Regions from separate parts of the Homo sapiens genome. Here region 1 is linked to region 2. Evidence: fine-mapped expression QTL. A gene starts in region 2. The other region holds a variant in brackets. All regions are shown on one strand. Distances are from middle to middle.

Region 1 (5,332 bases), 44 kb after region 2:
TACCCATTCATTATTAGTTTTACCTAAACGTGTTAGGATCACTACTGGTGGAAATTGTAACCAGCCTTTGGGCATCTTAAAGGGTGACATGTGGCATGCCTTTTTTTTTTTTTAAGAATTTAATGTTTTTCAAGATTGTAGTGTTGATCAGCGCAACAATTCAAGTGTGCAAAGTAACAGGATAGTTTGCCTCTTCACTTTACCCCTGGATAAAGGCACTTTCACTGCCTGTCACTGATCAGCAGATACTGACTTGTTGCCATTAAGTGAACTTGACTTCTTATGTGTGCTCTATGAGTTTGTTGTAATTTTCTTCTTGAAATTGTGATTTTTCACTGACAGTAATGACAAATTTAATGTATGTAATTGTCTATGCATTTTAAGTTAAACTGCCTAAAATGTGATTTGAGACATATACATATGTTTGTATTATAAATTGTAAGCAATCAGTTTGAGATACTAGGTTTTATCACCTGCTGCTGTATTTGTAAACAAAGACAAATGTTGCTTTAAGAAGTAATTATAATTAGGAATAGGCTATGGATGTGATACTTGGTATTTTTTAAGATAAACTTGTTTGCTTTTGTGTATTATACCTGGAAACTTTTTTTAAAAAATGTATTTTCATGGTTTCACAGATTTTTCATGTTATTTTATTCTTTAGGCCCAATTCTGGGCTTCTCTGAGCAAGTCCAGAGCCTAATTAACTGTAAATTTGTTGTCAAAAAGGAAGAAAAAAGGGCCTGAGATACCTCTTTGCATGTGACCTGCATTCACTAAGGATATCTGGAAACCACCCTTCCTCCGCAAACCCTCTCAGCAACATGGTGTCCATTGTGGTGATTTTCTCTTCTTTTAAGGCTAGGCTACTCTTGGTAACCAGATTATCCGTATATATGATAATATGAAGTCAGGGAACTTTCTCTGTCTGTCCCTACTCCCCTCACTCCCCCACTTTCTGTTATGAAAGATAGTTCTACTTTTATCATTAACTGCTACGCATTTAGTGAGGGTCACATTATTAAACTTGGAGTTTACCATTTTCCCACAGGAGATTTCGCTGGCATTCCTTGGAACTCCCAATTTCAGTAGGGCAATGAATGAATGAATACTTTGCAGTGCTACTTTTGGAAGGAATTTCTGCTTTTTGCCTTATGATTGGACAAAATGCAGCTGTAAAATTTTAAATTGTTTTTGATATGTTATTCAATATCCCATGAAAGTATTCACCTAAAGTGGAGTTATGAAATGGATGGTGAAATAATAAGACCATTCTGGAGCAGGGCCAGTTTCTTTTTTTCCTGTTGTGAGATGACATTGCTCTGACAAACATGCTATCGTGGGTTACCTGACCCAGGCAAGTCCTTTTTTATCACCGTATTAATACTCTTAGCACCAATCCTTTTGCAACTGATCTCCAAAGCAAAATAGAATTCTAAATCTTAGCTCACTTATTTTAAATAAGGCATGCAATAGAATTCGAGTGCCAGGAGAGGATTTGGGTCATCTCATAGAGCTTATTCCTGTGGCTTTTACTTATTTTTGGGACAGTCTCACTCTGTCGCCCAGGCTGGAGTGCAGTGATGCAATCTCTGCTCACTGCAACCTCCGCCTCCCGAGTTCAAGCGATTCTCCTGCCTCAGCCTCCCAAGTGGTTGGAATTACAGGTGCACACCACCAGTCCTAGCTAGTTTTTGTATTTTTACTAGAAATGGGGTTTTGCCATGTTGACCAGGCTGGTCTCAAACTCCTGACCTCAGGTGATTCGCCTGCCTCAGCCTCCCAAAGTGCTGGGATTACAGGCTTGAGCCACCATGCCTGGCCCTCGTGGCACTTAAACTTTTTTCTCTCATTTGGGAAAATTGATTTTCCCAGTGCTGAGGAGAGGACCAAGTAGAGCTTATAACGCTTAGTCTCTCCCTGCTTTCCCTAGAGCAGTTCCACTCTGCACTTCGTGTATTTTCCTTACTGATAAGTTGCTTCAGGAAGGGGACAGATTTGCTGCTTTTAAATTTTAAAAAACTACCATTATAAATGACCATGTCTGCTACTTGAGGTTTATTTAGATCATAGTCAGAGGTTCCCAAGTGTAATAGAATTGGGTCATATGGGATTCTAAGCCATACTTAGTTTTACGTAAGAAAAGAGGAAATAGAACATTTTAAGTTTTGCTCTGATTATGTTTTATGTCAGAGCTTGTCGTTTTATTTAATGGTCATATAGTCTAGCTTTCCTTAAAGATACGTAGATTTAAAAGCCACTTTAGAGATAAGGAAACCAAGTTTAAAAGAGATACGCAGTGACTCATGCCTGTGTAATCCCAACACTTTGAAAGGCCAGGGCAGGAGGATCATTTGAAGCCAGGAGTTTGAGACCAGCCTGGACAACATAGCAAGACCCCATCTCCACAAGCCAAAATTGAAGAATTAGCCAGGTGTGGTGGCATGTGCCTCTAGTCCCAGCTACTCAGGAGGCCAAGGTGGCAGGATCACTTGAGCCCCGGAGTTAGAGGCTACACTGCACTCCAGCCTGGACGACAGAGCAAGATCCTGTTTAGAGGTTAAATTCCCAGAGTCATACCACATAAATAATGAACCAGTGCTTCTGTTATCAAGGCTTAGAGTTTATCCACTAGGTTCTATTTTTTTTGTTCAGGCATCTAGTACTGCAGTTCTTCCAAAACTATCTGGACAATCAAATCTATCTAAATTGAATGTTATGTAGCAGACCTCTCACACTTCATTTAGTGAGTTTCATCGGATATTCAGT[TA/T]AAAAAAAAAAAAAAAGCTAATGGTTATGTTTGAAATGCATGGTTTTGTGAATAATCACAGTTCTTCAAGTGCTAACCTAGAACTTGAGTTGTGTTTTCATAAAGGCAAATGTTCAAAGGTATAGCAGTTAAGAGTGGGTTTAAAATGTGAATGAGAGAATTAAGGTAGTGGATGATCAAACCACTAGTTCCAGGTCCAGCCTTTGCAGTTACCAGTCATTGGAGACATGGATATCCAGCTACCCTGCAGTGGCACACACTAGGCCAAGGCTGTCAGAGCAGCTGAGACAGAAGAGGTCTCTGTTAGCAGTGGATGGGCAGCCAAGATGTACAGGAACTGCACAGAGTGTGGAAGAGTCAGAGTGAGGTTCTGCCAAGCACGGCATGACAGTTCTTTTTTTAAACGTGCCAATGCAGGACATGCTAAGTTAAAATATCTTAACTGTTGCTTAGTTACTGCAACACACAAAAACCCCAAGTACTAAGCTTAATGAATCACCTGCGTCCTTTCTTGAATGCTCAAATCTACAAAAAGACTAAACTGCATGACTAACGATTAGGACTCTTACTTGGGCTTTTTATAGAAGTGGAATGAAGAGGACTTGTGCGAACTAGGAAAAGCAGCTTCCCAGCATAAGATTTCTCGTCTGAAAGGGGTAATAAGTCTCCACCTTCGATGCCTCTGTGATCAAATTCTAAAGGGCAGCCCTTCATGGTTCAGCGAGCAACACAATTGCTGGGGATTCACAGGGCAGAGTTGGTATTTTTATTTTTTACTTTTCTTTTTAAATCAGTGTTGGGTCACGAATTTGTTTTTTAGGGTTTTTATTTTAAGCTTTGAGCTCAGCTCTGGTGTGTGATTTACGGCAACTGATTAGCTTCCTGTGCTCACTTCCCTTACCTATAAACATAATAATGCTCAAAGTACCATGAGGGAAAAAACATTCTTCATTCCCTCTAGCTAGAGATCCACTAGGTATGTTAGCATACCCCAAACAATGCACATCTAATATAGTAGCTCTATATGAATATTCCTTTTTTAAAAATCAGATTATCACCCAGGCGTGGTGGCTCATGCCTATAATCCCAGCTACTTGGGAGGCTGAGGTGGGAGGATCACATGAGCCCAAGAAGCAGACGTAGCAGTGAGCCATGATGGCACCACGCCTGAGTGACAGAGTAAGACCCTGTCTCAAAAAAATAAAAATTAGGTGATCAACATTAAGGATTAAATGTTACACAATGTGATTAGCTCTTACCTCACATGCCGGGGGGAGCAGGGAGTACACAATGTGATCCTAATATTTATTAACCACCAACCTTGTGCTCTAAGCAAGTGGTTATATGTCCCAGTTGGATATATGGCCTGGAATCATTCTGGTTCCTGTTTGCCAGGTATAATTTTTTTTTTTTTTTTTTTTTTGAGACAGAGTTTTGCTTTTTCCCTCCAGGCTGAAATGCAATGGCATGATCTCGGCTCACTGCAACCTCCGCCTCCTGGGTTCAAGCGATTCTCCTGCCTCAGCCTCCCAAGTAGCTGGGATTACAAGTGCCCACCACCACACCCAGCTGGTTTTTGTATTTTTAGTAGAGACAGGGTTTCACCATGTTGGCCAGGCTGGTCTCGAACTCCTGACCTCAGGTGATCCACCCACCTTGGCCTCCCAAAGTGCTGGGACTACAGGCGTGAGCCACCACGCCCAGACTCCAGGTATAATTATTAAAGCACCTCCCTTGCATCCACAAAAGTGTCCTGGTGTTTGTGATAAGTCACATGGTTGTCCTAAATATAACAAAAAAAGAGTACCAGTGAAGATTTTATTTCCTCAGAGAAAAAACTTGTCCTAAAAAACATGTTTTACTGTAGAAGTTACCCCTTCATTCACATACAGTCGGCCGCTTGTATCTGTGGGTTCTGCATCTGGGGATTCAACCAACCTCAGGTGGAAAATATTTCGAAGGAAAACAACAATAAATAATACAAAATGTAAAATACAATATAGCAACTATGTGCTAGCATTTACATTGTATTAGGTATTCTAAGTAATCTAGATATGATTTAAAGTATAAGGGAGGATGTGCGTAGTTTACAGGCAAATACGACACCATTTAATATCAGCAACCCAAGCATCTGTGGATTTTGGTATCCCAGGAGGGTCCTGGAACCAATCCCCTGTGGATACTGAGAGATGACTATATTATTTAGGGTGCTACTCAGACTGCATCTTATAAAGGTGAAGAACCATATCCAAGTCACTGAATTGTAGCTACATTATCTTCAGTAAGTCCCAACGGCAAGAAGCAAGCACGTCCCAGTCTTGGAACAGGGAGTCATGTCTTCTAAGATAGAGGAGCTAGATAGAGAAAGAGGGTTGGAACAGGGCTTTCTACTTTTCTGGGCACCTCTCCAAAGGTTTCTGCCACATAGCCACAATTATGTCTTTTTCCCTCCCAAGTCAGAAAGCAATTTCCCTTAAAGCCCTAAGTTTTTCCCCCAACTTAATCCCCTTACAAACTGAGTAGTACCAAAAATTATGTCCATTTTATTGTATTTTAGAGATG
Region 2 (5,383 bases):
GAAGTAGACATAAGAGACTCCATTTTGTTATGTACTAAGAAAAATTCTTCTGCCTTGAGATTCTGTTAATCTATAACCTTACCCCCAACCCCGTGCTCTCTGAAACGTGTGCTGTGTCAACTCAGAGTTAAATGGATTAAGGGCGGTGCAAGATGTGCTTTGTTAAACAGATGCTTGAAGGCAGCATGCTCCTTAAGAGTCATCACCACTCCCTAATCTCAAGTACCCAGGGACACAAAAACTGCGGAAGGCCGCAGGGACCTCTGCCTAGGAAAGCCAGGTATTGTCCAAGGTTTCTCCCCATGTGATAGTCTGAAATATGGCCTCGTGGGAAGGGAAAGACCTGACCGTCCCGTAAAGGGTCTGTGCTGAGGAGGATTAGTAAAAGAGGAAGGAATGCCTCTTGCAGTTGAGACAAGAGGAAGGCATCTGTCTCCTGCCTGTCCCTGGGCAATGGAATGTCTCGGTATAAAACCCGATTGTATGCTCCATCTACTGAGATAGGGAAAAACCGCCTTAGGGCTGGAGGTGGGACCTGCGGGCAGCAATACTGCTTTGTAAAGCATTGAGATGTTTATGTGTATGCATATCTAAAAGCACAGCGCTTAATCCTTTACATTGTCTATGATGCAAAGACCTTTGTTCACGTGTTTGTCTGCTGACCCTCTCCCCACAATTGTCTTGTGACCCTGACACATCCCCCTCTTCGAGAAACACCCACAAATGATGAATAAATACTAAGGGAACTCAGAGGCTGGCGGGATCCTCCATATGCTGAACGCTGGTTCCCCGGGTCCCCTTATTTCTTTCTCTATACTTAGTCTCTGTGTCTTTTTCTTTCCTAAGTCTCTCGTTCCACCTTACGAGAAACACCCACAAGTGTGGAGGGGCAACCCGCCCCTACACAAACTAATACAGGTATCTTCTAACAGTCTTTCTGCATCCATGAGTGCTCCTTTTCCAATTCATCCTCCATGCATTTTCTCAAAAACAAACCTGATCACATCTCTCTGCTTCAAGCCTTTAATACCTTCTCAGTGCTTTTAGGATAAAACGAGATTCCTTAATAAAGTCCAGAAGGTCTTGGATAGGACATCCATTGCCTAACTTCACAGATTCATCTCTCACTAAACTCTGCATCACTCTCCACATTTTAGTAAGGCTAGTTTTCCTTCAGTTCTTTGAGCATACCATGATCCCTGGCCCCATTGGGCCTTTACACACAGTATTGCCTCTGCTTACTATGCCAACATCACCACCCCACCGCCACCACCACTCATCTCTTTATACTGCTTAATGCCTGCTCCGTCTTCAGATGGCGTCTCAAGAAACACTTGTCCAAAGAAGCCTTCCCTGACTCCTTTAACTAGATGAGCTTCTCCTCATACATGTTTATCACTGCACATATTACTTGTTTCTAAATACACATTTATTTTTGTGATTAATTTGTGTTCAATGCCTGTCAATCCAAAAAGACCTTAAGCTCAAAGGAGGAAAAGACTGTGTCTGGTTCGCTCTATTCTATCTGTAGTCCCCAGCAAAAGAGACACACAAGTATTTTTTCAATGAATCAATCAACATAGAAGCGACAGTGGAAGCCGTGCAATCGAGCAGTAGTGCGTAAGAATGGGACTTGGAAAGATAAAAGGGACCAGAATAACCGTAGGAAAATATTATAGTTTAGGAATCAGAGGAAAAAATTGTTTTAAGCCGTCAAAAAGTTAAAAAAAAATAAGCAAAAAGGGAAATAGCATCACTAAAGGCATGGAAGGATATCATTCCAAACAGAACAGGCCACTGAATTTGACAAGTAGGCAGTAACTAGTGATCTGACAAAATTAATAATGTAAGATGCAGGGAAGGGGAAAATATATGGAGAGAAGCTCGCATCTTTCCAACTCCTCTGGAAGTACGATTATAACTTTGTCGATATACTACAACTACCATGACGGCCCGAATCAAACAATAATCTAAAGAAATATGTGTGCCATTTTAGATTTCAACATTATTCCTCTATCCGCATGAGTCATTTTTAGCTGACTGCACATATAAAGTTTAAGGATAAATGTTTTAACATTTGCACCTAAAACGTTGTTTCTCAAAGAACCTTACCTCCCAGAATCATCAAAACAGACCTCCGTGTGTCCCTCTGTATGCCCATATCTCATTGGCTTCCGTGTGGCAGGCATGTTTTCCTTTACCTATCTGAAAATGTTTTATAAAAGCCAGTCTTATTATTTCAAAAGAGAAAAGCAGCGAGGCTAGGGATAGGAAGAGAGCTTAGTCTCCTCTAGGGCCCGTTCTCCGCAGCCCGGTTTCCCCCACCCGAGTGACACCAGCGGGATAAGGCAGAGGGTCTGTCAGACAATAAGCCGGAAAGGGAACACGCATCTCCTTGGTGGACGCGGGCAGCCGGAGTGGGGACTCACCCGGGTGACCGAGCCTCCGCCACTGAGGATCCACAAGAGCTGCTTCCCGCGCTTCGGCTCGCTCACCACACTGCGCCTGCGCCGACCCGCCCACGCCCAGCGCAGGTCCCGACAGAGGTCGCCGGGTGGTGGCGTCAGCTGCGGCGCCCTCCGCGTGGAAATTAGCCGGTTGCCCGGGCAAATCAGGGAGGAAGGGAGGGAGCTGAACACGGAAGTGGTGGCGGCGCCCAGGGAACCGGCGGAGGCGATGACCGTGACGGCTGGGTTGGGACCGGAACGCCGAAGCGGGGTTGGGGGTGGCAGAAAAGCATCTGCTTTGTAAGACCTACACGAGGTGCAGGAGTGGTTGGGCCTCCCCTCTCCACTTAAGCAAGCGCCCAGACTGATGGCGATGGTGATGGCAGCAGTTACTCGCACAACCCCAGTTAAGCTGCGCTCCGGGAGGTGAGTGGGGGAAGGGTGGCCGCTGCCTGGCCTCGCAGGCCGGGGTCTTGTTCCTGCCCTCCAGGCTCTCCTCCCAGGAAACAATATCCGGATCCCTAAAAGGATCCGGTCTCTTTCTTGGGGCCCAGTTAGCAGACAGATCTTTGAGCATCTTCTCTGGAAAAGAAGGCGAGATCTTCTAGAGCCTCTAATCTTGGCATCCTTCGTGCCCTCACCTTGTCGCTTCTGTAGAGATAAAGAAGGAATGACTTAATTTCTGTTCCGGTTGGTTCTCTTGGTACCTGAAGGTATAATTAATTAATGCTCAATTAATGCTTATTCTTTGCGACTCTATATATCCGTTATGAAGAAAGTAACTTGTGTTCTCTATTCAGATCCCACCTAAAGTTTACTGAAGTGAATATTTATAACCAAAAGAAGAGTTATAACTTAGTAGCCTTGAGCACTTACATTTGATCCATGCAATATCTGCTAAAGTCTTGGCCACTAAGTTTAAGTTTATGCTTTTCTTGTATCTTCATTCTCCATATTGGTACAGCAGCCTGTGATGAAAACCTTCAGAATGATATTCTTTCATTTGTACTTATCTTTGAGAATTTTTCTGCGTTTTTGTGATACCTTCCAGTATCAATCACATTTATTTTATTACCTGAGACGTTTTTCTGTTGAAGAGGTTTCCCTATTGTTTTTTTCAATCTAGTTCCATTGTGAAAAGTTGCAAACACACAGGCAAACCGTCGTGTTCTTACCGTGGGTGGCATTGTGTGAGGCGTTGTTTTTAGTACTAGAGCTCCAGATAGCCTTGCTAGACGCTGAGGTTTGTATATGAATGAAGAGGAAGAATGATTGGCTTAAAAACAACTTGGGATTTGTGGAAAAATAACCCACTGTTGATCTCCCGAAAGAGCAGTGGTACCAGAGATGATGCTTTCTGAGTGACCTAATTTTTTTTTTTTGGAGATCATTTGTTTTTTGGATAGACTGGCTTATAAATTTTTTCGTTCAAGTAACAATATCATTGGCTAGAGTACATAGAGTTCAAGATGAACTCTCATAATATTCGTCTCTATGTTGAATAAAGCGTGGTGAGATTTCTGGTTAGTACTATTCAGAGCTCAGCATAAGAAGAATCTGCAAATTGGAACAAGTTATAGCTACAAAATGCCTTCACTATAATATCTGTAATACCCATGAGACTATGATTGATGTCCACACATCTGTCATTTTCTCTTATCAATCAAGCCATTTGATTCATAGGTTAAAGAACAATTTTCTTTGCAGATTTTGCATGTATGGTAAAAGCTTGAGCCTCCGAGTTTAACAGTCCTGGGTTTTAATTCTAACTGACACATTGTGTGACCTTGAATATGTTCCTTTACTGAAAATCGAATTCCTCATCTCTAAAATGGAGATGACACCTACCTCCGTCGCATTGTTAGAGTATATAGGAGATACTCATGGATGTATAAAAGTAATTGTTATTAATATCTCATGTTACTAAAGGGGTGCTTTGGGTGGGTATTTAGTGTTTTTTGTTTAAAGTGGGATTTGTTTAAATAATTATCCAGTAAATTTTTCAAATATTAAAAAATGTATTCTTGTTTTTGCTAGTATCATGTTTTCACAATTCCATTTGTTTCAGTCAAATGGCTACAAATTGTAATACCTTCAGTGAGTTTATGGTCTTGCTGAGGGAAATAGACATTCAAACAATATGATCAAGATGATAGTGCAGTAATGAAAGATGTGTAACTTAAATATTAGCAAAATTGTCTAGTTAGTTAAAATAACATAGTTTTTTAAAAAGAAATCAGTGTAGCTGTGTCACTGATAGGAGTATCAAAAATTTTCCAAATGTAGTTATTTGTCATTAACAGTGCTTATCTCATAGGTGTGGGTGGCTAAATGAACTGACTGAAAATGATGCCAAAGTCACAGATTGAATTGCAGTGATGGTTAGTTAGCTTTGCTGTGTTGTAACCACTCATACTACCCTTAGACTCACAAATATTTTTGCTCCCAAGGACAATTGGGTGAGAAAACATGGGTACATTGCCATTCTACCAATGATGGTATTACCTATATAAAATCATGTGATCTTACAGGATTTATCTAAGAGGATATATCAGTATTGGCTTATGGAAGGAGTTTAAAAAATTATTTTCTAGTAAAATATGTACTTGGTGTAAAAATGATTAATCTTGTGAAAGGTAAGGCTAGAAGAGTGTAACAATAGCCAAGGAGACCAAAGTATTGAAAAAAGAAACATTGAAGGCACTTTAGAAATGTGAAGATTTTTATATTTCCAAATGTGTCCTGAAACTTACTAGCCTATTTAATAATTTTGGGGTAAATAGTACTTGTCTGTATGTATACTTAATATGATATAAAAGGCAATACAGTAAAAGTCGTCCTCCTACTCATACTCCCAGCCATCCAGTTCCCCTGGCTAAAGACAGCCAGTATTTGATTCTTGTATTACATTAACACTAGATCCTTACTACAGCAAG

Alleles and levels. Positions count from the first base shown, and alleles are read on the strand shown. Sizes are in standard deviations (SD) of each study's normalised expression.
For the expression in monocytes after LPS of the gene that starts at base 2,501 in region 2, allele T in region 1 goes with a lower level than allele TA (moderate effect, 0.59 SD a copy in Fairfax 2014).

What was found. PIP is the estimated chance that this variant, and not a neighbour inherited with it, causes the effect. A credible set is the group of variants that fine-mapping cannot tell apart.
Region 1: its variant is the best candidate, but not a certain one, in a credible set for the expression of WDHD1 in monocytes after LPS (Fairfax 2014, PIP 0.57).

The regions. Positions count from the first base shown.
Region 1 is chr14:55,068,911-55,074,242 of GRCh38, forward strand. MAPK1IP1L (mitogen-activated protein kinase 1 interacting protein 1 like) reads left to right here. Exons shown (of 4, transcript NM_144578.4): 4 at 1-1,284. Among named protein-coding and RNA genes, the nearest start is that of MAPK1IP1L, 20 kb to the left of the region's middle. RefSeq lists an enhancer at 3,304-3,423. The variant TA/T (reference allele first, on the strand shown) is at 2,770.
Region 2 is chr14:55,024,599-55,029,981 of GRCh38, forward strand. It overlaps WDHD1 (WD repeat and HMG-box DNA binding protein 1), which reads right to left and starts at 2,501. Exons shown (of 26, transcript NM_007086.4): 1 at 2,430-2,501; 2 at 2,113-2,205. The coding sequence starts at 2,189. SOCS4 (suppressor of cytokine signaling 4) reads left to right here and starts at 2,638. Exons shown (of 3, transcript NM_199421.2): 1 at 2,638-2,873. RefSeq lists enhancers at 2,323-2,850, 2,851-3,377 and a silencer at 2,479-2,528.